Linked DNA regions of Homo sapiens: regions 2 and 3 are each linked to region 1. Evidence: fine-mapped expression QTL. Tissue or cell type: monocytes after R848. Region 1 holds a variant in brackets; each other region holds the start of a gene. All regions are shown on one strand. Distances are between the middles of the regions.

Evidence for each region. PIP is the estimated chance that this variant, and not a neighbour inherited with it, causes the effect.
Region 2: it holds the start of GCLC-AS1, and the variant in region 1 is fine-mapped to the expression of GCLC-AS1 in monocytes after R848 (Quach 2016, PIP 0.95). The same link has a PIP of 0.9 or more in monocytes, monocytes after LPS and monocytes after Pam3CSK4.
Region 3: KILH starts here. The variant in region 1 is fine-mapped to the expression of KILH in monocytes after R848 (Quach 2016, PIP 0.95).

What each region holds. Positions count from the first base shown.
Region 1 is chr6:53,547,404-53,555,512 of GRCh38, forward strand. No RefSeq gene overlaps it. Among named protein-coding and RNA genes, the nearest start is that of GCLC, 6.4 kb to the left of the region's middle. RefSeq lists a silencer at 739-968. The variant A/G (reference allele first, on the strand shown) is at 4,483.
Region 2 is chr6:53,426,474-53,434,582 of GRCh38, forward strand. GCLC-AS1 (GCLC antisense RNA 1) reads left to right here and starts at 5,021. Exons shown (of 5, transcript NR_183318.1): 1 at 5,021-5,166.
Region 3 is chr6:53,568,981-53,577,089 of GRCh38, forward strand. It overlaps KILH (KRT19 interacting long noncoding RNA in hepatocellular carcinoma), which reads right to left and starts at 4,295. Exons shown (of 4, transcript NR_110840.1): 1 at 4,220-4,295; 2 at 443-625. RefSeq lists an enhancer at 4,054-4,554.

The DNA of each region.
Region 1 (8,109 bases):
CCCTACGCGACACTGAACCTAGTAAGAGTTTAACACTGTAATTGGAGTTACTCTGTCCTAGATCCCGGCTCACACTCACATAAGGGACCTCCCTCACCCTATCCTACCCCCCCGAATTCTGAACCAGCTCCCCCAGCGGGGGTCCCAGAGCTTTGGACAATCCCAAAAAGGGCGCCGGCGCTGCTGCACCACAGGGCAGTTATGCCCAATTTAAACCTTGATCTCTCAGTGTCTTTAGCCTTTTCTGTTACAAAGAAAAAACAAAAATCCCATCACGGATCAACTGAAGTCATATTTAACAAGAGTTACTCCCCTCTGACAATGCTTTGCCTGCATAGGTCCACTACTGCTCGATTTCATTCTGTAGACTGCACCCAGGGCCAGGTTTCGACATCTGGAAGTGAGTTTTCAGCAGACAGCTCCATCAGGGCTGTAACGATAGCTGAAGGGGAAAGAAGGAGCTCATATCTTGCAGAATCAGCTCTTCCCTAGACCATGACCAAAGGCCGATTCCCAGTAGTGTCTTCCGCGGAAAAACGCGAGACCCGCTCTCCAGGAACCCATCTCTGCCCAGCGGCGCCCTGGCACCGCAACCTCGCCTCGCAGCCCCGCGGACCAACACAGGCCCCGCCCCCAGAGCCGTCCGGAAAACCTGGACCGTGGAGATCCGCATGGGGGGACGCCGTGCAGTCGTGAGGCCAAGCTGAGCATGCTCGGAGAGCCGGCCTGTCGCGGGAGGAAGCGGTGTGGGCCGCGGGCGGCGCACGCCGCGCAGTTGTTGTGATACAGCCCCCGCCACGTGACTGCGCGGGCCCGCCTCCCCCGCGCGCGGCACCGCCTCCCCGTGACTCAGCGCTTTGTGCGGGCTCCGAGCCGGAGGTCAATCTGGGGGAGGCTTCTTAGGGCAAAGTCTCAGTCCATCACTCCTGACCTCTGGGCTGCTGCTGCTGCTAGGATTGCCGCAGTCGTTTCAGACACGATGGGTTTCGGGCCTCCAAGGACCAAAAAATACATCATTTTCTCTGTGGTCACGCCATTCCCAGTTTCCCTTGAGTCAGCGGCTTCGCGAGATCAAATAAGGAAAACAGAGAGAGTGCCCAGGGGACTCTGAGGAAGGCACTTCTAGGTTATCTGCCCCTGCCTTTACCGCTCTCTTTGGCTTGAGTATCCCTTGACCTTGGTGGTCTGTCGCTTGGGTCCCAGTATATCACATTCTATGCCAGGCACTTTGAGCTGGTATCCGTAAAACAGTACTAATCTTTGCCACATTTTATAAGTGAGGCAACTGAGATCCAGTAATACTAAGTAACAGGTAGTGGCTAAGCTGGGGTTTGAACTCCAGTGATATTTCAAAGCTGTCTACTACACCACTTAGCCTGGGTGAAGCTGGTGGCTGCCTTCAGTGTGATTCTTCCTGGGACTTGATGCCAACCTTCATTACATCCTTTCTTCTCCCTTGACACACCCTTTCCCCAAAACCCGCGGATCTGCCTGTGAAGTCCTTAAGCTTTTTGTCTGTTAAATTTCTTTCTTTTTTTTTTTTTTTTGAGATGGAGTCTCGCTCTGTCGCCCAGGCTGGAGTGCAGTGGCGGGATCTCGGCTCACTGCAAGCTCCGCCTCCCGGGTTCACGCCATTCTCCTGCCTCAGCCTCCCAAGTAGCTGGGACTACAGGCGCCCGCCACTATGCCCGGCTAATTTTTTGTATTTTTAGTAGAGACGGGGTTTTACCGTTTTAGCCGGGATGGTCTCGATCTCCTGACCTCGTGATCCGCCCGCCTCGGCCTCCCAATGTTAAATTTCTTAATTGGTGAAAACAAATAGTTAGTTATTTCTTAACTTCAGTGTACATGTTAAACAACAAAAGATACAGAAGGAATTTTCTCCCTACAATTGAATTGTACTTGGAATTTGACTTGATCTTATTCAAGAAGATCCCTGGGGGCTTTATGATGGAAGAGCAGTAGCCAAAAGACTGGGGCTTTGGCCCCATCTCAGAGGGCTACCTGCTGGGTCAATCTAAGCAAAGTTGTGATAATCATTGGAGAGTCCTTTCCTCTCATCTGTACAAATGAGAGTCTGGAGGAGATAAAGTTTCCCTTCCAGCCTAAACATTTTCTGATGTTATTACTAAAATTAGTTGAAAGAGTTCAAATCTTTTTGTATCGTGTACTATTTGTAATACATGCTGCTGAGGTGTGCTATTGTCATTGTCAAAAAAGCAAGGAAACTCTTTTGACCTTTTCCAAGCCAATTTTTAGTTTACATGGATTTTTGAAAAATATAAATGTGCTTGTTTTCATGTAGAGTTACAAAAGGTCTGTGAAGTTCAAGTGAAGAACTTTTTTAACATGGAGAAGTTTGAGTGTGCTAAAGAAGATGGGTAGGCATCAAAAGGGGGCAAGATTGAAGATGTGGGAACAAGAAAGGATATTTTCAGAAGCAAAATGTCTCAGGAGACCTGACTTGTTGGGATCCAGAACACATGGGAAGTGGTGAGCTTTTTTTCCTAGAAAAATCTCATTGTCTTCTTATAGAAGATAAAGACGCCATGATAATGTGTTGGGACAGGGCGAGTGATATCTGAGTCCTGTAGACTCACTCTTCTCACTGGAGAATAATTAAAGATAACTTTTTATTATGGACATTTCCAATAAAGCACAAAAGTTGAGAGAACATAGTATAATGGCTCTTCATGTACTTTTTTCTTTTTTTTTTTGAGACGGGAGTCTTGCTCTGTCACCCAGGCTGGAGTGCAGTGGCATGATCTTGGCTCACTGCAACCTCCACCTCCTGGGTTCAAGCAATTCTCCTGCCTCAGCCTCCCGAGTAGCTGGGACTACAGGCGCCTGCCACCACGCCGGGCTAATTTTTGTATTTTCAGTAGAGACGGGGTTTCACCGTTAGCCAGGGTGGTCTTGAACTCCTGACGTCAGGTAATCTGCCAGCCTTGGCCTCCCAAAGTGCTGGGATTACATGTGTGAGCCACTGTGCCTGGCCCTAGTTTTTGTATTTTTGGTAGAGATGGGGTTTTGCCATATTGGCCAGGTTGATCTCAAACTCCTGACCTCAGGTGATCCGCCTGCCTTGGCCTCCCAAAGTGCTGGGATTACAGGCATGAGCCATGGTGCCCACCTCTTCATGTACTTATTATTCATCTTTGTATGTTACAGTTACTTACCTCCTCCCATTAGTTTAAAGGAAATCTCACTCAAGTCTGATCTCAGGACCTGAGCTCTAAGTGAAGGTTGAAGAAAGAAAGAGGAATGTAGAAGATGAGGTTTGAGCAGCTGATATGGGAGGTGATCTAGAAAGATGGAAAATAATGAGCAATACCCTAATATCCGTAAACCAAAAATAAAATTCTAAGCCCTCCAACTACCTGAATGGACCACTCCTCTAGGCCAAGAACATTCTAAAGTAAACCTGAGGCCAGGCGCAGTGACTCACACCTGTAATCCCACCACTTTGGGAGGCCAAGGCAGGCAGATCACCTGGGGTCAGGAGTTCAAGACCAGCCTGGCCAACACAGCGAAACCCCGTCTCTACTTAAAATACAAAAATTAGCCAGGTGTGGTGGCATGCACCAGTAATCCCAGCTACTTGGGAGGCTGAGGTGGGAGAATCACTTGAACAGGGAGGCGGAGGTTGCAATGAACCAAAATCACGCCACTGCATTCCAGACTGGGTGACAGAGTGAGACTCCGTCTCAAAAAAAATAAAAAATAAATTAAAAAAAAGTAAACCTGAAATATGAAACACTACTTCAGGCCATGATGGAATAGGTGATCAGACATGCCTAATTATAACATCCTCCCTTTGGATTTCAGGCACAGCTGACCAGCATTAACATTGAAACAGACCTGAAGACTGACTAAACAGGTTCTTTGGAACAATAAAATACCAACATGATGGATAATAGGCCCTGAAGAAATCAAGTATTTTATCTTAAAATACAGTTCTTTGACATATTTTGAAATGGCCCTGCAAAGCTGTTTCTTGTGGGGAAAATCTACATCCTGTAGAGAATCCCCTTCCCTTTCCAGGTCTTTTTCCTGATCCAGAAGAGAATTAACGGAGTCTGGCACCTTTTTAAGTCTCCCAACAAACATTTACAGTCTATTCTCTTTGAAGCCTGCTACCTGGAGGCTTCATCTGTATAATAAGAACCTTGGTCTCCACAACTCCTTAGTTAACCCAGACACTCCCTTCTATCGATTCTAGGTCCTTAGGTAAACTCAACCAATTGCCATTCAGAAAACCTTTGAATCCACCTATTCAAATATTAGCGGGGACCTGGAACTGACCCTCTGATACGGTTTGGCTGCGTCCCCACCCAAATCTCAACTTGAATTGTATCTCCCAGAATTCCCACCTGTTTTGAGAGGGACCCACGAGGAGGTAGTTGAATCATGGGGGCTGGTCTTTCCTGTGCTATTCTCACGATAGTGAATAAGTCTCACAAGATCTGATGGGTTTATCAG[A/G]GGTTTCCCCTTTTGCTTCTTCCTCATTTTCTCTTGCTACCACGCTGTAAGAAGTGCCTTTCACCTCCCACCGTGATTCTAAGGCCCTCCCAGCCATGTGGAACTGTAAGTCCAGTTAAACCTCTTTTTTTTTTCCAGTCTCAGTTATGTTTTTATCAGCAGTGTGAAGATGGACTAATACAGTAAATTGGTACCAGTAGAGTGGTGTGTTGCTGAAAAGATACCTGAAAAGGTAGAATCAACATTGGAACTGGGTAACAGGCAGAGGTTGGAACAGTTTGGAGGGCTCAGAAGAAGACAGGAAAATGTGGGAAAGTTTGGAGCTTCCTAGAGACTTGTTGAATGGCTTTGCCCAACATGCTGACATGTTGACAATAATGACAGCTGACAATAATGTCCATGCTGAGGTGGTCTCAGATGGAGATGAGAAACTTGTTGGGAACTGGAGTAAAAGTGACTCTTGTTACGTTTTAGCAAAGAGACTGGTGGCATCGTGCCCCTGCCCTAGAGATTTGTGGAACTTTGAACTTGAGAAAGATGATTTAGGATACCTGGTGGAAGAAATTTCTAAGCAGCAAAGCATTCAATAAGTGACTTGGGTACTGTTAAAGTTTTATAAGGGAAGCAGATCATAAAAGTTTGGAAAATTTGCAGGTTGACTATGTGATAGAAAAGAAAAAACCATCTTCTGGGGAGAAATTCAAGCTGGTGTCAGAAATTTGCATAAGTAGCAAGGAGCCTAATGTTAATCCCCGAGACCATGGGGAAAATGTCTCCAGGCCATGTCAGAGACCTTCATGGCAGCCCCTTCCACCATAGGCCTGGAGGCCCAGGAGAAAAAAGTGGTTTTGTGGGCCAGGCCCAGGGTCTCCGTGCTGTGTGCAGCCCAGGGACTTGGTGCCCTGTGTCCCAGTCACTCCAGCCATGATTGAAAGGGGCCAACATACAGCTCAGGCTGTGGCTTCAGAGGGTGGAAGCCCCAAGCCTTGGCAGCTTCCATGTGGTGTTGAGCCTATAGGTGCACAGAAATCAAGAATTGAGGTTTGGTAACCTCCACCTAGATTTCAGATGTATGAAAACGCCTGGATGCCCAGGCAAAAGTTTGCTGCACAGGCAGGGGCTTCATGGAATACCTCTGCTAGGGCAGAGCAGAAGGGAAATGTGGAGTTTAGAGCCCCCACACAGAGTCCCTAATGGAGCACTGCCTAGTGGAGCTGTGAGAAGAGGGCCACCGTCCTCCAGATCCCAGGATGGTAGATCCACTGACAGCTTGCACCATGCACCTGGAAAAGCCGCAGACACTCAATGCCAGCCTGTGAAAACAGCTGGGAGGGAGGCTGTACCCTGCAAAGCCACCGGGGCAGAGCTGCCCAAGACCATGGGAACCCACCTCTTCCATCAGCATGACCTGAATGTGAGACCTGGAGTCAAAGGATATCATTTTGGAACTTTAAAATTTGACTGCTCCACTGGATTTCGGACTTGCATGGGCCCTGTAACCCCTTTGTTTTGGCTAATTTCTCCCATTTGGAATGGCTGTATTTACCCAATACCTGTACCCCCATTTTATCTAGGAAGTAACTAGCTTGCTTTCGGTTTTACAGGCTCATAAGCAGAAGGGACTTGCCTCGTCTCAGATGAGACTTTGGACTGTGGACTTTTGGGTTAATTCTGAAATGAGTTAAGACTTTGGGGGACTGTTGGGAAGGCATGATTAGTTTTGAAATGTGAGGACATGAGATTTGGAGGGGCTAGGGGTGGAATGACATGTTTTGGCTGTGTCCCCACCCAAATCTCAACTTGAATTGTATCTTCCAAAATTCACACCTGTTTTGGGAGGGACCCAGGGGGAAGTAATTGAATCATGCTGGCTGGTCTTTCCCATGCTATTCTCGTGATGGTGAATAAGTCTCATGAGATGTGATGGGTTTATCAGGGGTTTCTGCTTTTGCTTCCTCCTCGTTTTCTTTGGCTGCCACCATGTAAGAAGTGCCTTTCACCTCCCACCATGATTCTGAGGCCTCCCTAGCCATGTGAAACTGTAAGTTCAATTAAATCTCTTTTTCTTCCCAGTCTCAGGTATATGTTTATCAGCAGCGTGAAAATGGACTAATACAGCCCCCTCACCCCGAGTTGTCTCATGTTTCCCAAGTTGTCTCACATTTTCAGGGCATGTTTCTGGACTGAACCACCATCTTTCATGTACTGATGTCTTACATCCACCTAAAATGTATGATACCAAACTATATGTAGCCCGACCACCTTGGGCACATGTTCTCAGGATCACCTGGGGTTGTGTCACAGCCCATGACCACTCATATTTGGCTCAAAATAAATGTCTTCAACTATTTTATAGAGTTTGACTCTTTTTGTTGACATATCTTACTGGAAACCAATTTCTGTCATTCTAAATTTGGAGATGGTAGATCTTATCCAGTTTTTTCACTCCAAATTATCCAGCTATTGTTCCAAATTATGGGGCTTTGTATTTAAAAACAAAACCCAAAGCCAGAAAAACATGCTTGTCGCATATAGTATAAATGATTTGACAATGGCTGTGCATGGGTGATTAATATTGCTAAAATAGGCCAAGTGTCAAAATGTGAGTAAGATTGCTAAGGCATGTATTTACCTTTTTAAAGATATCTGATCTTAGTCTCTGCCTTTTTTCTTCCATTTCATTCACCTTAGTTCACATAAATATATGTAAAGTTCATTCTAGATTAGATAACACCAAATAATTGAACTTTGGCGCACTATAACCTATCATTCATGGATGATGAGATGTGAAAAAGTGTTAGCCATAATTACATCTATGTAGAAAGGCAATTGTACTGAATAATTGAGCAATTTTGCTTCGATAAGACCAGTTCCTAAAAGCAAAAAAAAAAAAAAAAATATATTGTACTTCCCGAAAGTATTTTTTCTCATACAATACCTCCTGCCACTTATTTTAGTACTTAAACTTTAATGTAGTAAGTACCTTAAGGAAAAAATTCAACTCACCTAAAAACTTATCTTACAATACACAGGACATCCCACAACAAGAATTGTCCTACTCTAAATGTCAGTAGTATCAAGTTTGAGACACTCCTCTATATGTTGTGAAAGGATAATAAATCTCGAGACCTCCAAAGCACTAAGCCAAGGGAAAAATCAAGCTGGAAACGATGTCAGGCAAACCTGCCTGCATCTCATTTTATTCCTAAATAAAATAGCTACAAAGATAAAAGGCTACATACCTCCCTCACAATTTGCCTACAAGGAATTTCCTTGTGGACAAGGGATAGACAGAAATCAAAGTCATCCTTCTGAGGCTCATCTGAGACAAATGCATATCTGATTGCTTCCTCTGCCATATTGTTTATATAAAAATGCAGATTCACTGAGCCAGACTAAATTGTGTATTCGGTGAAAGGCTGGTCAAAGACTCAAAGGAATCCCCCTCTGCTCCCCCCAACCCTGTGTGCCTTACTGGACTGAACCAAGGTACATCTTACACATAATGATTGATATCTCCTGTCTCCCTAAAACAAATAAAAGCAAGCTGTACCCCAACTACCCTGGGCACAAGTCATCAGGACCTCCTGAGACTGTGTCACAGGTATGTCCTTAACCTTGGCAAAA
Region 2 (8,109 bases), 120 kb before region 1:
TTAAATCAGAAAAATTACAAGCAAACACACATTTATGCTTTTATAAGTCACCTGTGTAGTTACCCTTATTGCTGCTTTTTATTTCTTTGTGAGGATTCGAGTTACTGTTTAGCATCCTTTCATCTCACTTGTAGGGCAGTTCTGCCAGCACAGAGCTAGGATTAGAACCAAGGTCTTCTAACTCCAAGTTAAAGGCTATTTCTACCACATCTCAGGGGCATGAGAGCCTGTGAGTTCCAGGACTATCTTTCCATGAGGAGCTCAATTTCATCATTCTGGATATTGGTCCCGCCAGAATTTCTCATCACTCTTATGAATCCTTTTCACCCTTCATTGCCACAGAAGTTTTAATGAGCAAGCGAGTCGTACTGTTTTCTTGGTTTCTTTTCCGGTATCATATGACTACAGGTGAATGAGATATGGTTAGCAGCAAGCCAGATGTTAAGAAGCAGTGATCTCATTGTTCAATTCCCACCTATAACTAACCTGCACATTGTGCACATGTACCCTAAAACTTAAAGTACAATTAAAAAAAAAAAAGAAGCAGTGAGGCAGGGGAGAGGTGGGAATTGAAACCCACAGTTATGATGTGAGTTCAGGTAGCCAAAGACAAATGGATAATCTAATTATGAATCTAGTTGTGAGAAAAGCAGTATTTGCTAAACTCAGTAGTGAGATTAGGAACTGAGTCATCAGATCAGAGAGAAGGCAGACCAAAGTGAGCCAAATATAAGCAAGTAAAAATCTCTGAGCATTATAATTCAAAGAGATCTGTGTGTTGGATGACTAGGGCTAGTTCCAGAAATGGCGCATAAAAATTAGTTGCCTTTTGTTCAATGCTTGCAGCTGTAGGTGGAAGTGTCAGGGCTACGTGTTCACCTGGTAGAAAGTTCTAAACTGGGCATGATCTAGGAAGGGGAAGGAAGCCTCTAGGATCCTTCCTCTGAGCCATATCCTTCCCAATGTATTAAATCATTATTTATTTAATTTTGAATAATATATGCAGGGCTTCTCAAGAAGAATGGACATCTTGAAGTTCCAGCTATAATTTTAAAAAGAAGAAAACTCCCTATAATTTAAGTGTTTAATCCTATTAGTATATTTCAATTACAGCATGTATGAACTCATTTGGAGAGGACATAAAAAATCTAAGTTTATGGTCTTTATGAGTATGAGACCCATGGTTAATGGGCCTTCTGGTAAAATTCCCTCTCCTCAGCCATACCCTGCAATAGCTCAGATGTCAGGGACCTATTCAAAACGTATTGGTTTTATAAAACTGATACATGCTTATCACAAAAAGGGCTACGGAAGAGTATATAGAAGAAAGTTAAAAAACAAAACCAACAAGCAAAACCCCCACTATCAACTACCCAGAAATAATTGTCATAACATTTGGCAACATCATCCTAGTTCCTAGTGATCTCTCTATGTATGTACCCATATTCACACATAGACATAATTCTACAAAAATGGGACCTACTGTAAATGCTTTTTTTAAAAAACAAAAAGCATTAAATTTGTCTTTACTTGAACTAAACTGGAGAAAAGCTAGTGAAATTGGTAGAATTGCTCAATCTCAGATTAATAAGTTTCTTCACATCAAGCAATTTTATTTTCCTAGAAGATAACTCTAAAATTTCAAAAGATTTTTTTACTTAAAAAAAAAAAACCCAATCACCAAAATGCTTCAATTCAAGCAGTATCTATGGATCTGCCTGCACTGAAGGTAAGCAACATGGCACCATCTTTCTAACCTACCCCTACAACACCATATTTCTGTTAAGTGTATTATTATTTTTTCATTATCAAGATTCATAAATTTACTCTGTCCTGTAGCCATAATTCTCAGCTTTGCTTTTTCTTTAAGCCATTGAATGTGTTTAATGACCAACCTTCCACTTCCGGGTTTTTAATTTTTCACTTAACAATTGGCTTGCTGGGTTTTGTTGTTGGATGGCTTTTTCAAAAATAATTCATGAGCACTAAATTTCATGAATTGCTGCTTATTTTAAAGTTTGTTTCCTGCCTTTATGTTTCAAGCACAATTAGATGGACACAAAGTTACCCTTTCCTTTCCTCAGAACTTTGTAAGCAGAGCTCCATTGTCTTCTGGCATTGAATGCTGCTGCTGAGGTTTTGGAGGTCAGGCTCATCTGCACCTCCCTCACAGCCCTTACACTTAGAGGAGCTTTTCTTTTTCTACATGGATGTCCTTAAAGCTTTTAGTTTATTTCAAGATATGTGTAAGCATTAAATATTCTTTATCAGATTTTCCTGGGAAATTTTTTCTAGTGCTTTGTGTTCTCTTTTTGTTATTAAATCTTTAAGTACATTTTCTTTCACTATTTGCTTTTTAAAATTTAAGAATACCCATTATTTTTATATTAGATCGCCTTTGTCTAGATTCCATATTAGTAGTCATCTGTCTAGTAATTTTCATCTTTTTTCCATTTCATATTTTAATGTTTGCTCAAGGCTGTCTTTTATCAACTCAATGGTTTTTTGTCATACATATTTTACTTTTGATTACTTCTGTGGTCTTTAGCTATGAAAAGACTGATGAGCCTCCTGGACTGGCCTCTCAATACGGTGGATATTATCACCATGGGTTCATAGTTTTTGGCTTTGCTCATTTTTTTTCTTCCTTAGATCAGCCTCCTTGCTCCATTTCTTGAATGAGTCAACTCATCTCTTACCTCTTCAACAGTGGCAGAAAATTTGGATAGATGTTTGTAATCCATTACTGATTTCTTGGAAACTTAAGGAATGGGAGAAGTTGCAAGATAGTAGATGAACTGGGGAAGAGAATTCCAAGAAGGAACAGCATGTGACGGATACCTGGAGTAGAAAAAAAATAGTGGAGCTTTTGAGGCAATGAGAAAAGGATTATGTGGGTCAGGAAGCACAAGCTTGAAAGACAGCAGTGCTAGGTAAAGTGAGGGAGGCCAGATAATATAAAAGGCATTTTAGACTATGAAGTTTGGATTACATCCTTAGAGTACTGGGCTGGGGCAAGGTAGAGGAAGTGGTGGTTACTAAAGAACTTTAAACAAAAAAGGACAAACATTAATGTTTTTTAAAAAAATGATAGCTATGGTTGTAGGGTAGAATGAAGAATAGAAAGTAGAAGATCAGTCAAGAAACCCTTAACACCTACTCACAGATGGTGGTTGGTTAGCAAAGGTGTTAAAAACAGGAGGAAGAAACATAGAACTTTTTTAAATGTAGGAAACTGGATGTATTAAATATATGTTTGCATCCATACCAGTTTGACTTATAATAGAGAAAACATGAAAGGAATTCAAATGTTTATCAATAGGTGAATTTAAACAAATTATGATATTTCCATGCAATGGAATACTACTCAGTCACAAAAGGAATGAACTAATAATATACAAAACATAGATGAATCTGAAAATAATTATGGTAAGTGAAAGAAGAATGAAAAGAAGAGTTTATACTGTAAGATTCTATTTATATAAAATTCTAGAAAATACACACTAAGCTGTCATGATGGAAAGCATATCAGTGGCTAGTTTGGGGAGTAGGGAGAGGTGGGCCAGAGGGATTACAAAGGAGCATTAGGAAACTTTCGGGGATGATGGAGATGTTTATTATCTTGATTATGGTGGTAGTTTTGAATGTATACTTGTGTCAAAGCTTATCAAATAATGTACTACAATTATGTACAGTTTATTTCAGTTATACATGAATAAAGCTGTTTTACTATTAAAATGTAATTTTGAGGTAGTTTAATAGCATTTAGTGAAGAGAACGAGGGATAGGAAGACAAAAAAGATTATTATAAGGTTTCTGGAATGAGATAATTTCTGTGAAGATATTTAAAGCCCTGGCAATGGATGAGACCACCAAGAGTAGGAATGGAAGAAGGTCTAGGACTGAGTGTGGAGGACAGCTGATATTTACAGGCTGTGTGGAGAAGGAGCAGAGGTCTTACTTCTTTGTGGGGTGTGCCATTGTTGATTTATCTCTTATTGAGAGAGATCATGTTTATTGCTAATATTTTTCATTTCTGAGCTGCAACGAATAACCTTATACATTTTGGAAGTGTGTGTACATGTAATCTGTAAGATAAATTTTTAGATGTAGAATTTTCTGGATCAGAGGGTAGGAGTAGTTGTGATTTTGGTAAATAATGCTAAATTCCTCTTCATAGAAGTTGTACCTATTACATTCCCATCAGCAATATGAAAATGCCTCTTTCCCCACAACCTCATCAGCACAGAAGATTATCAAATTTTTGACCTTTCCTAATTTCACAAGTGAAAATTGGTAGCTCAGTATTATTTTAATTTGCATTCTTTAGCTATGAGTGAGATTAAACATGTTTTATTGGTTAAGAGTCATTGGGAGGATTGTTGTACCTTTAAAAAAATTGAGTTATTGATTTTTTTTAACACGTTATACATGCTTTCTTTATATAAGGAAAAGTAGCCCTTTGCTTCCAATATATCTTGCATATATATTTTCCCAGTTTGCTGTTTGTCTTTGAAATTTGTTTATGGTAGCTTCGGCCTTGTAGAAATGGTTGATTTTCGTATTGTCAAATTTATAAATCTTTTTGTTTATGGTTCTTGAGTTTTGTGTCATAGAGAGGTTTTTCCAACTCTCGAAGAATTCTCTCGAGATTTCTTAGAACTGATTTATAATTTCATTATTTACTCTGAAATCTTTGATTCAATTGTATATTTTCCTGGTGCAAGTGGGAGGGGTTAAGACAATTTTAGTTTTATTTTTAGATGGCTACCTGGTTTCCCAAAATCATTTATAAAATAACTGTCTTCTCACCATTGACTGGAAGATTTCACCTTTATCTTTGTTAAGTAAAAGAGAAGGCTTTATAAATGAGGGTTTTAGAATATATTTGAATGCTGACACTTAATCCCAGTGCAACACTGTTGGGAGTTGCGGCCTTTGGGGTATTTAGGTCATAAGGGCTCCACCTTCATGAATGGATTAATGTTGTTATAAAAGCCCTTTATGAAGGAGTTTGGTCCTCTGTCCCTTCTGTCTTCTGCCATGTGAGGACACAGTGTTTCTCTTCTTTGGATGACACAGTGTTCAAAATGCCATTGTGGAAGCCAAGAGCAGCCCTCACCAGATGCTGGTGCCTTGATCTTGGACTTCTCAGCCTTCAGAATGGTAAGAAATAGATTTCTGTTCTTTATAAGTTCTGTTCTTTATAGGTCTGTGCTATTATACTAGCACAAAATGGACTAAGACAATGAACATGTATGCAGATATGTTTAAATTTCATGGTGGAAAGAAAGATGACTTCTATTTTCCTGTTGTAGTAGAGGGTGTTGATGGATACAAGGCAGCAAAGTCCATTTCTGCTATAACAAAACACCATAGACTGATGGCGTAAACAATCAATATTTGTTGCTCACAGTTCAGAAGGCTGGAAGTGCAAGATCAAGCTGTCAGCAGATTTGGTGTCTGGTGAGAACCTGCTTCCTTGTTCATAGACAGCTGTCTGCTTCCTGTGTCTTCACCTGGCAGGAGGGTTAAGGGAACTCGCGGGAGCCTCTTTCATAAGGGCATGAATCTCATTCTTGAGGGCTCCACACTTACGACCTAATCACCCCCTAAAGTCCCCATCTCTTAATTCTATCACCCGGGGGGTCAGGATCTCAGCATTCAAATTTAAGTTGGGGGACACGAACATTCAGATCATGGCATAAACCAACCGTTCTAATTGCATTATTTTCTCTAGAAATGATCGGCTGCCTCTGTGTGGGCAAAGAAAAGGCCTATCTACCTTGGAAACAAAGCTTTGGAAAACTCATTGCTGGTCTAAAGAAACAGACAATTGAGGCCAGGCGCTGTGGCTCATGCCTATGCTCCCAGCACTTTGGGGAGCCGAGGTGAGAGGATCTCTTGAGCCCAGGAGTTCAAGACCAGCTTGGGTAACATAGTGAGACCCCACGTCTACCAAAAAAACATTAATAAATTAGCCAGGCATGGTGGCTTGTGTCTGTGGTCACAGCTACTCAGGAGGCTGAGGTGGGAGGACTGCTTGAGCCTGGGAGGTCGAGGATACTGTGAACCATGATCGCACCACTGTGCTCCACCCTAGTCAACAGAGCAAAGCCCCATTTAAAAAAAAAAAAGGAAAAAGAAAAGAAAAAGAAAAAATGAAATACACAATTGGACAGTAAAAGAGCCTCTAAAGGGGAAGCAAACAAGAGGTTAATAGGGCATTGATGACTAAGAACCCATTTTGCAATATTCTCTGGAGCTGGCCTTGCATTTAGAATGAATGTGAACCTGAAACTCTTCAGGATTCAGGGCAGGGGATGGCATATGATCTATTTGCCTACACTTTGCTTCAGCTGACAGCAGCCGGCAGGTCATGATCCCTGTTTTCTCCCATGATTTGTTGTCTCAGCTGCCAGATGACAGTGCTATTGGGCTGCTCCTAACTATGATCACTCCTTAGCCTGTCCTCGGGTAGCTCTTGCTTCCAGATTTTATTAACCCACACATCCCAGCTGGGTTTCTGGAAACCCCCACCCACCCACCCTGTGAACTGCTGACGTTGCTGATGACTGTGGGCAGTGAGAGCAGCAAGTGGGAAACAATCTTATGAAAGAGAGAAGAATGTGAGTCAGCTGGATAGATGGTATTATGTGAAAGAAAGAAGATGCATTGGGAAAGTAGGATAAGCCTCATTCTTTTAATAAATACTCATCAAAAGCTGATTACAGAATAGTACTGGATTATAAGATTGAAGTTCCTCCTAAGCCTTTCCCATAAAGATAGGAAGCATGATTTCATCTTTCATTTCATCTTTGAAGATATTGGTTACTGGTCTTCATATGAGCTAAGTGCTCATTAAATGGTTGCTGAATGGATTAATAAAGGAGGGACTATTTTAGTGTCTTTGCTTGTGCCATTCTCTCCCTGGAACACTTTCCCTTTTCTAATATAACTCCAGAAATTCCACTTTCGTCTGAAGGCTCCCCCCTCCTCCATGAAGCCTTATGTGACTAACTTCTGCCTAAAGTTAGCTTCCCCTTTCTAAAGTCTATGGTACAGATAGTTGAATCTATGTCAATAACACATTCTGTCCAATATTTTGCTTCCATATTCCTCTCTCCCACTGTGGATCTTTTTAATGCTGTGTAGATACAGAAATATACATTCTTACTCTCCAACAAGTGTGTGCATTTCCTAAATGCAGGGATGACATCTTTGACTTCTTTCCGAATGTCCATGGTTCCTGATAGCGTACTGGGCACAAAGTACTGCCCTCGAAGTACTTATTTATTTGACTACCTATTATCTCTATCTAAAGCAAATATTGTTAGAAAAAGGCTGAGGCTTATTGTTAACCCATACAGGACAGAGAATTGTAATGATCTTTCTTCCTAATCCTTAGCTTAATCCTCCTAATCCTGTAGCTTAAACCCTGAAAATGTTTGCATCCTTGATCTATAAGGAATGTTATAGCATGTGACTCTATTAAGTGTGGAAAATTGAAAGGCAAATTAAAATATTTTTATTTGGCAGCATCATGAAACTGTTGAGGTCTATAGACATAATCTTCATATGAATGCTAAACGTAGTACTTACTATCAATAGATGTTCAAGTCCAATGTTACTGAGCTGTGACTGTAGCAATTCGCTAATCTTCCTTTGAACATACACTATTTACTTTTTAAAGTCTTAGTTAAAAAATCAATTTTTTTCTCTCTAGTGAATTTTATGATGCTTTTGTTTTATATTATTCAACCTAAAACTTCTGAGATTTTTAAAAGGCTAACAGCAGGTTGTGAATGTTCAAATAGACAAAATTACAAAGTACACATTCATTACTGACTTAGCTCAGCTTCCTGAGATAATCAGAAGTTAAATTTCATCAGCTCTCTCTACCCGAAGGCTATGGCACTACCACAAAGATAAATTCTTTTTTTTTGAGATGGAGTCTCGCTCTGTCTCCCAGGCTGGAGTGCACTGGCGTGATCTCAGCTCACTGCAAGCTCCGCCTCCTGGGTTCACGCCATTCTCCTGCCTCAGCCTCCCCAGTAGCTGGGACTATTAGGTGTCTGCCACCACTCCCAGTTAATTTTTTGTATTTTT
Region 3 (8,109 bases), 22 kb after region 1:
AGAGCAATCTCTCTTGATTAGTGCAAAAAACTACTGATTTGCATATTTAAGATATGATATCTCATTGTATGGGAAGAAGTTGGGCAAATGATTCATCTGGAAAAGATCAAGGAGGCTGATTCATTTAATTCAGGGCTTATTTATGCAAAGCTGTTTTTGAATGTTTGCAGATCTGGATCAAATAATTATGGCATTAATTGAGACATTAGTATGTGTTCATCATTGGGTTCAAATTCATAAGCATCCTGTTATTTAATTCTCACTACAGCCATATGAGGTGAACAATAATATCCTCATTTTGCCATTGAAAAAAATAAATTTTGATGACTTAAGCATTTTTTTTAAAGTTTACATATCTAGTAATTGGCTCAGGGCTCTCCTGCAAAGTTAGCTGTTGGCTCTGAGAATACTGGGGTCAGTGACCTGGGGTCAGTGATCTTACCTGCACCCCGTCCCTATTTACTGTAGCATTTGCAGAAGATGCTGTGTTCCTTCTCACCTCCTGTGATGGTGGCATCATCCTGGATGGCAGCTCTCCCTCTAGTTAGGTCAGTCTATCTCTTGCTTCTCAGTGATGCTCTAGTTTCAGCAGTCAGTGAATACTCTGCAGGGGTTAATGGAGGAGCTGGGAAGTGTAGGGGTTCAATAAAAGGAAAGATGCAGAAAAAGGAGTAAAGTAAGGGGACTGGGGAAATATGAATAGATTTAATGAATATTTATTAAGTGCCTACTAGGTATCTGGTACCGTGCTAGGTACTGGGACAAAATAACAAGCAAAAGGCAGGATATTTCTCATGGAGCTTATAGCTTAGTTGGGTGGGAGGAGACTAGTGTTAAATGAAGAGCCACATAAATGAATGCACTGTTCCCGGAATGAACCAAGGATCAGGCTGCTTATTCTCACGGCCCAATAACGAGATGCAGATGAACTGGGAAAGAAGAGAGTTTACTTCTGTAACCGGGTATAGAGAGAAGGCCGGGAAAATATCAGCAGACCAACTCAAAATTACAGTTTTGCAGAGCTTATATACCTTCTAAGCTACATGTCTACGTGTAAGTGTGCATTCATCGGAAGACATAAGTTATTAATTTCTTCTAACCTATAGCTAAAGTCTGTGGCCTAAAGACCTTCCTGTGGAGCCTCAGTAAATTTACTTAATCTAGATGGGTCCAGGTGCCAAAGGTAATTACCCTTATCTTGTCTCCTTGCTAAATCATGGAGGTTTAGGGAGTTCCTTCAGACCCCAGTAAAACTTGTTTAATACTAAACGGATCTTGTTAAGAATTCCTTTGTTATCTTGTCATGCTTCAAGGCCCAGGAAAAGTCTAGGCAAAACTCTCAGTGGGCTTTTGTTACCTTCCAGCCTTTGTATAAGGACACTGGCTCTATTACGTTTGTTGTTGTTGTTGTTTGTTTGTTTGTTTGTTTGTTTTTGAGAGGAAGTCTTGCTCTGTCGCCCAGGCTGGAGTGCAGTGGCATGATCTTGGCTCACTGCAATCTCTGCCCACTGCAACCTCCGCCTTCAGGGTCAAGTGATTCTCCCGCCTGGGCCTCCAGAGTAGCTGGGATTACAGGCACCTGCCACCATGCCCGGCTAATTTTTGTATTTTTGATAGAGATGGGGTTTTACCATGTTGGCCAGGCTGGTCTCGAACTCCTGACCTGAAGTGATCCACCCGCTTCAGCCTCCCAAAGTTGTGGGATTACAAGCATGAGCCGCTGCGTCCGGCCTTCTATCAACTTATTTATTTATTTATTTATTTATTTATTTTTTGAGGCAGAGTCTCGCTCTGTCCCCCAGGCTGGAGTGCAACGGGCGGGATCTCGGCTCAATGCAAGCTCCGCCTCCTGGGTTCACGCCATTCTCCTGCCTCAGCCTCCCGAATTGCTGGGACTACAGGCGCCCGCCATCATGCCTGGCTAATTTTTTTTTTTTTATTTTTTAGTAGAGACGGGGTTTCACCCTTATAGCCAGGATGGTCTCGATCTTCTGAGCTCGTGATCCGCCTGCCTCGGCCTCGCAATGTTTTGGGATTACAGGTGTGAGCCCGCACCCGGCCTCTATCAACTTTTTAATATTTAACTTAACACTCAGTCAGTGCTGAAACAGTTGTCATGGAGGCCTGCCTGTTCAGCTGTTAGTGAGACCCGGCCTGCTACAGCACAATTTAAAATTGTGAGGTTCCATGACGGTGAAAGAGGGCTATGACAAAGAATAAGGGGAAGAAGATATAGTTTAGATAACAGGGGTGTGTTTTTCAGAAAAGGCCTCTCTGAGGAAATCGTGTTTAAAATGACATGTTTATAAACTGTGTTTGAATACTGAAATACTTGTATATTGATAATTCTAAAATAATACAACTATTAGCCTTTGAAATTTGTAGTTAATAGTAGGAAATACATTTATTTTTATTACTTATGCACAGTTTTCTTACCATTTTTAAAAGTAAATTGTAGATATAAGTGAATACTTCTATATATGCTTTAGTTATAAAATTTAAGGAACTGCTATTTGATTATCTTCATATCACCTGGAATAAGCCATGAGCATTACTGATTTTTACAGATAAAATATCTTTTGTTTTGTGAAGGATTTTTCTGTATTTCCCAATTAACTGTTTCTATATATACAATAAAAATTATCTTCTCACCATTCAGTGTGTCTGTTTTAAGGTTAATATTGTACCAAATATGGACTAATCCTCATTTCTAAAGCTTATGTAACCACATAGTGTTTTATGTCCAATAAAATGTTATTTATGTACTCGGTTTACAACATATCTAATTTTTCATAGAGGAAATGGACATTTTGGCAACGTTTAATGGTGACAAAATGAAACAGAATCTTTTTTTTTAGAAAAATAAAATATGTACTTTCTACCTTTTGGATATGAATTTTCACTTGTTTTCTACTGACAGTTACTTCTCAAATAGTGTACATTACAAATAAAGTTATCATAATTAGTGGGAAAGAATATTGATCAAAATATTTTATATTCCATCTTTACCTCTGTTCAAAAACTTCACGTAAAATTGTATATGTACATTTCAAAATGTAAAAGTAATGTTTGTAAGGATCTTCACAATTATCAAAGCATTAAATGTACCATTTATTTTTTATTTACTGAATAAAAGGGAAGTTTATTAAATGGTACAAATATCACATTTTCTCTGTTTTGATACTTGTTTGTTACAGTTTATAGTTTATGCTATCTGAATCCAGGATTTTTTTTTTTTTTTTAATAGAGATGGGGTCTCCTTATGTTTCCTGGGTTGGTTTCCAACTCCTGGCCTCAAGTGATCCTCCTGAATAGTTGGTATTATCGGCATGCATCACACCAACTGGCCCTTTTTAAATTATTGTTATTATTTTAATTTTATTTTTTAAACTAAAAAAATTTTTTTGAACTAAAAGTAGATCTGCCATTTGATCCAGCAATCCCACTAGTAGGTGGGAAAAGAAGTCATTATATGAAAAAGATACTTGCACATGCATGTTTATAGCAGCACAATTTGCAATTGCAAAAAATATGGAACCAACCCAAATGCCCATCAATCAACAAGTGGATTAAGAAAATGGAATACTACTCAGCCATAAAAAGGAACGAAATAATGGCATTCGCAGCAGCCTGGATGGAATTGGAGACTATTATTCTAAGTGAAGTAACTCAGGAATGGAAAACCAAACACCGTATGTTCTCACTTATAAGTGGGAGCTAAGCAATGAGGACACAAAGGCATAAGAATGATATAATGGACTTTGGGGACTTGGAGGAAAGGGTGGGATGGGGTGGGAGGGATAAAAGACTACACAATGGGTACAGTGCACACTGCTTGGATGACGGGTGCATCAAAATCTCAGAAATCACCACTAAAGAACTTATTAATGTAACCAACCACCACCTATTCCCCAAAAACCTACTGAAATTTGTAAAAGAATCAAATACAATACAATAAAATATGTAAAATTAAAAAAATTTTTAAATAGGGATGGGGTCTCACTATGTTGCCCAGGCTGGTCTCAAACTCCTGGTCTCAAGCGATCCTCCAACCTCAGCCTCCCGAAGTGCTGGGATTACAGGCGTGAGCCACCATGGCCGGCCAGATGCTGACTGGAGTTTAAATTCAGGATTTCTTTTATGATCATTGTTTATTATTAATGTTAGGAGTAAATTTTTTTTTCAAAAAAGTCTTATTTAAATCGATGGCACAACTTACAATTAATGGCATTTTAGAATTGGCATCATATGGCATGATTTATATTTTGTCAGCAGCAAGCCTTGATTTCATCCACCTGGAGTAGAAAATGAAATACTATTAAATTTTAATGTCCAGCTTTCCATGGTTCTTCTCCCCAGGCTGTGATCCCTTGAACTCTCCCTCATCCTCCACTTTCTCACGATTCTCGTTCGGTATTTCTGGGAGTCCTGGACGGCGTGCCTTACACCAGGTTTATAACCCGCTCCTCCCCTGGAGGTACCTGCTGCTAGCTCTCCCGCTCTGTTCCTGGCCACGCCCACTGCACTTCCGGTGGCCTGAAGGAGGATCACATGAGACATCCCGGGGTCTGGCTGCATGCAGTCCCCAGAGGCTGTCCCCTCAGCACTGTTTAGTAGTCGGGTTCTCGGCGACTTCAGTCTAGTCCCCAAGGCTTGCTCTCCTTCGTCCAGGAGCAGCTCTGCTCAAAGCCAAAGGGTCTCCAGGTGTCTCAGGGAAGCTTCTGTCACAAACTTACTGCAACCTTTGCTTTCCAGCCTTCCACACACACACAAGTCTCCATGGAATCACAGGGCAGTTGCAACTCCCCTTTCAACAGGAAAACTGCAACAGCCTCCCTTCTACCCAAAAGGCATCACGTCATTTAAAAGAAGGATGAGGCAGGGCAGTCAGTAATAACAATGGCAACCACAATAGGTGTCACTCCATTTTGATGTTAGGAAACTCAACAGAGAAAATCAGAGAGGTTGAATGAGTTGCTCAAGGTCACAGACCTAAGAAAACCATGCTCAGGATTTGAACCAAGGACTGCCTCTCTCCAAACACACCTATGCCATCTCCCATAAAAGGACTGGATTTTTTTCTGTCCCATGGCTGTTTTTACCTCTTGCTGAGCCTATCAGCTGAGGTACGTAGGGTAAGGTGTGGGGAAGCACAAACTCCTCCATGTGCAATGGGTTGAAACACCTATTCCACATTACTGCTGTTGTTGCAGCAGGGATAAAGGGGGGGGTCGTGACCTACCAAAAGGCCCCTGAATTTATTTTTCAGCTTTTAGCTTATATTTTTGTTTCTATTGTACCATTTGATGCATGCACTTAAGTGCCTTTAAAAAGGAAACTCCAAACAGCTGAGAAAGAAACGTTATAAAATTGATGACATCTTTTTTTTTTTTTTTTTTTTTTTTTTTGAGACAGAGTCTTGCTCTGTCGCCCAGGCTGGAGTGCAGTGGCATGGTCTTGGGCCACTGCAATCTCCCTCTCCTGGCCTCAAGCAATTCTCCTGCCTCAGCCTCCTGAGTAGCTGGGACTACAGCCACCTGCCACCACACCCAGCTAAGTTTTGTATTTTTAGTAGAGACGGGGTTTCACCATGTTGGCCAGGCTGGTCTCAAACTCCTGAACTCAGGTAATCTGCCCGCCTCAGCCTCCCAAAGTGCTGGGATTACAGGCATGAGCCACCGCACCCGGCTTGATGACATCTTTTATGAAATCCTTTTTATGTTTTCAAGTGAATTTGGGTATTTTGTTTTATGTTTTCAAGTGAATTTGGTCAGTTTTCTCCCTTGAAAGAACCAATGCAATGCAATTTATTCATTCAGACTTTCTTTTCCTTTCTCTTTCCCTCCCTTCCTTCTCTCTGTCTTTCCCCCATTTATCATCTAGGAGACACCTGCATTACAGTGTTTGAAGCAGTTCTAAGCATTATGGGATACAGAGATGAATATAACTGATACCTGTCCTAGGATATTACACTGTAAAGAACTGGATCTTTAGAGCAGAAGGCAAATACAGAAAAATTCTAATACCAATTATAAAAGGATAAATACTTAAGCAAATCTGATAAGTGTGATGTTTTTTGTTTTGTACATAGATTACTCTCCACTGAGAGAGAAGAGAGCAGGGCACTAGGGAAAGCATCTTGAGGAGATGGTGTACGGGGTAGATTTGGAAGGATGGGTAAGAAGTTGTTATGCAGATATGGAGCATGGGCAGAGTTTAGGGCAGTAGAACCATCAGAAACTGTATGATGGGATCAATGAAGAATAGGCTATACATGGTGAAATGAATGGAATGCTTACATCCCCCCTAAATTCATATGTTGAAATCCTAACCCTTAAACTGATGGTATTAGGAGGTGAGGGCTTTAGCATGTGATTAGGTCATGAAGGTAAAGCACTTGTAATTGGAATCAGTGCCTTTACAACAGGGACCCCAGAGAGCTAGCTAAACCCTTCCATGATGCAAGAACACAGCAAGAAGGCACCCTCTATGAACCAGAAAGTGGGCCTTCACCGGACATGGAATCTGCTGTGCCTTGATCTTGGACTTCCTAGCCTGTAGAAATGTCATAAATAAATTTCTGTTGTTTATAAGCTACCCAGGTTATGGTATTTTATTATAACAGCCTGAAATAGACTAAGACACATGGTCAACAATAGATATTTAATTTTGATGGGATGTTAGTTTTTCAAGGTGGGTGAAAAAATAAGCTTAAAAAGGTAGGCCAAGACCAAATTTAGGAGACCTTAAATCCTTAAATGCCAGCCTTTGGACTGACATAGGACTTTTTTTTTTAGAGTCTCATTCTGTCACCCAGGCTGGAGTGTAGTGCCGTGATCTTGGCTCACTGCAACCTCCGCCTCCCAGGTTCAAGTGATTCTTGTGCCTCAGTCTCCTGAGTAGCTGGGATTACAGGCATGGTGTGCACCACCACGCCTGGCTCATTTTTCTGTTTTTAGTAGAGACAGGGTTTCGTTATTTTAGCCAGGCTGGTCTCCAACTCCTAGACTCGAGTGATCTGCCCACCTTAGCCTCCCAAAGTGTTGGAATTACAGTCATGAGCCACTGCACGTGGCCTGTTTTGTTTTTCCTGTTTTCATTTTCCAGTTTTCCTGTTTGTTGAAGATTGGTCCAATTATACTCCTTAGTTTATTTCATACTTTGGCCAATGGTCTGTGTTAGGCTCCTCCTTCTCCATCATTCATTCATTTTTATTTTCTTTTATTTCTGCCTTTGATTTCCATCCCCATCACCCACCAATGGCAGCAATTCTTGGGCACTTGATATTTATGCTTTTCTTTGTATGTGTCTTTATTATATAAATACTATTGTATGCATGCTTTAAAAATATTTTTCTGCCAATCGCGGTGGATCATGCCCAGCACTTTGGGAGGCTGAGGCAGGCAGATCACTTGAGGTCAGGAGTTTGAGACCAGCCTGGCCAACACAGTGAAACCCTGTCTCTACTAAAAATATGCAAATTAGGCCAGGTGCGATGGCTCCGCCTGTAATCCCAGCACTTTGGGAGGCCAAGGCGGGCGGATCATGAGGTCAGGAGATCGAGACCATCCTGGCTAACATGGTGAAACCCCGTCTCTACTAAAAAAAAAAAAATTAGCCAGGCGTGGTGGCGGGTGCCTGTAGTCCCAGCTACTCGGGAGGCTGAGGCAGGAGAATGGCGTGAACCCGGGAGGTGGAGCTTGCAGTGAGCCGAGATCGTGCCACTGCACTCCAGCCTGGGCGACAGAGTGATACTCCATCTCAAAACAACAACAACAACAACAACAACAACAACAAAAAAAACGAAAATTAGCCAGGCGTGGTGGCACGCCTAGAGTCCCAGCTACTCAGGAGGCTGAGGCAGGAGAATCGCATGAACCCAAGAGGCAGAGGTTGCAGTGGGCTGAGGTCGCCTCACTGCCCTCCAGCCTGGGCAACAGAGAAACAGACTCCGTCTAAAAAAAAGAATAATAAAAAGTAAAAATAAAAAATGGAAAATCTCAAACACAAAAAAGTAGAATATTATAATGAACTCTCAATTATCTACCATCCAATTGTAATAATGATAAATTATTGCCAAATCTTGGTTTATCTCTATCCCCATCCACC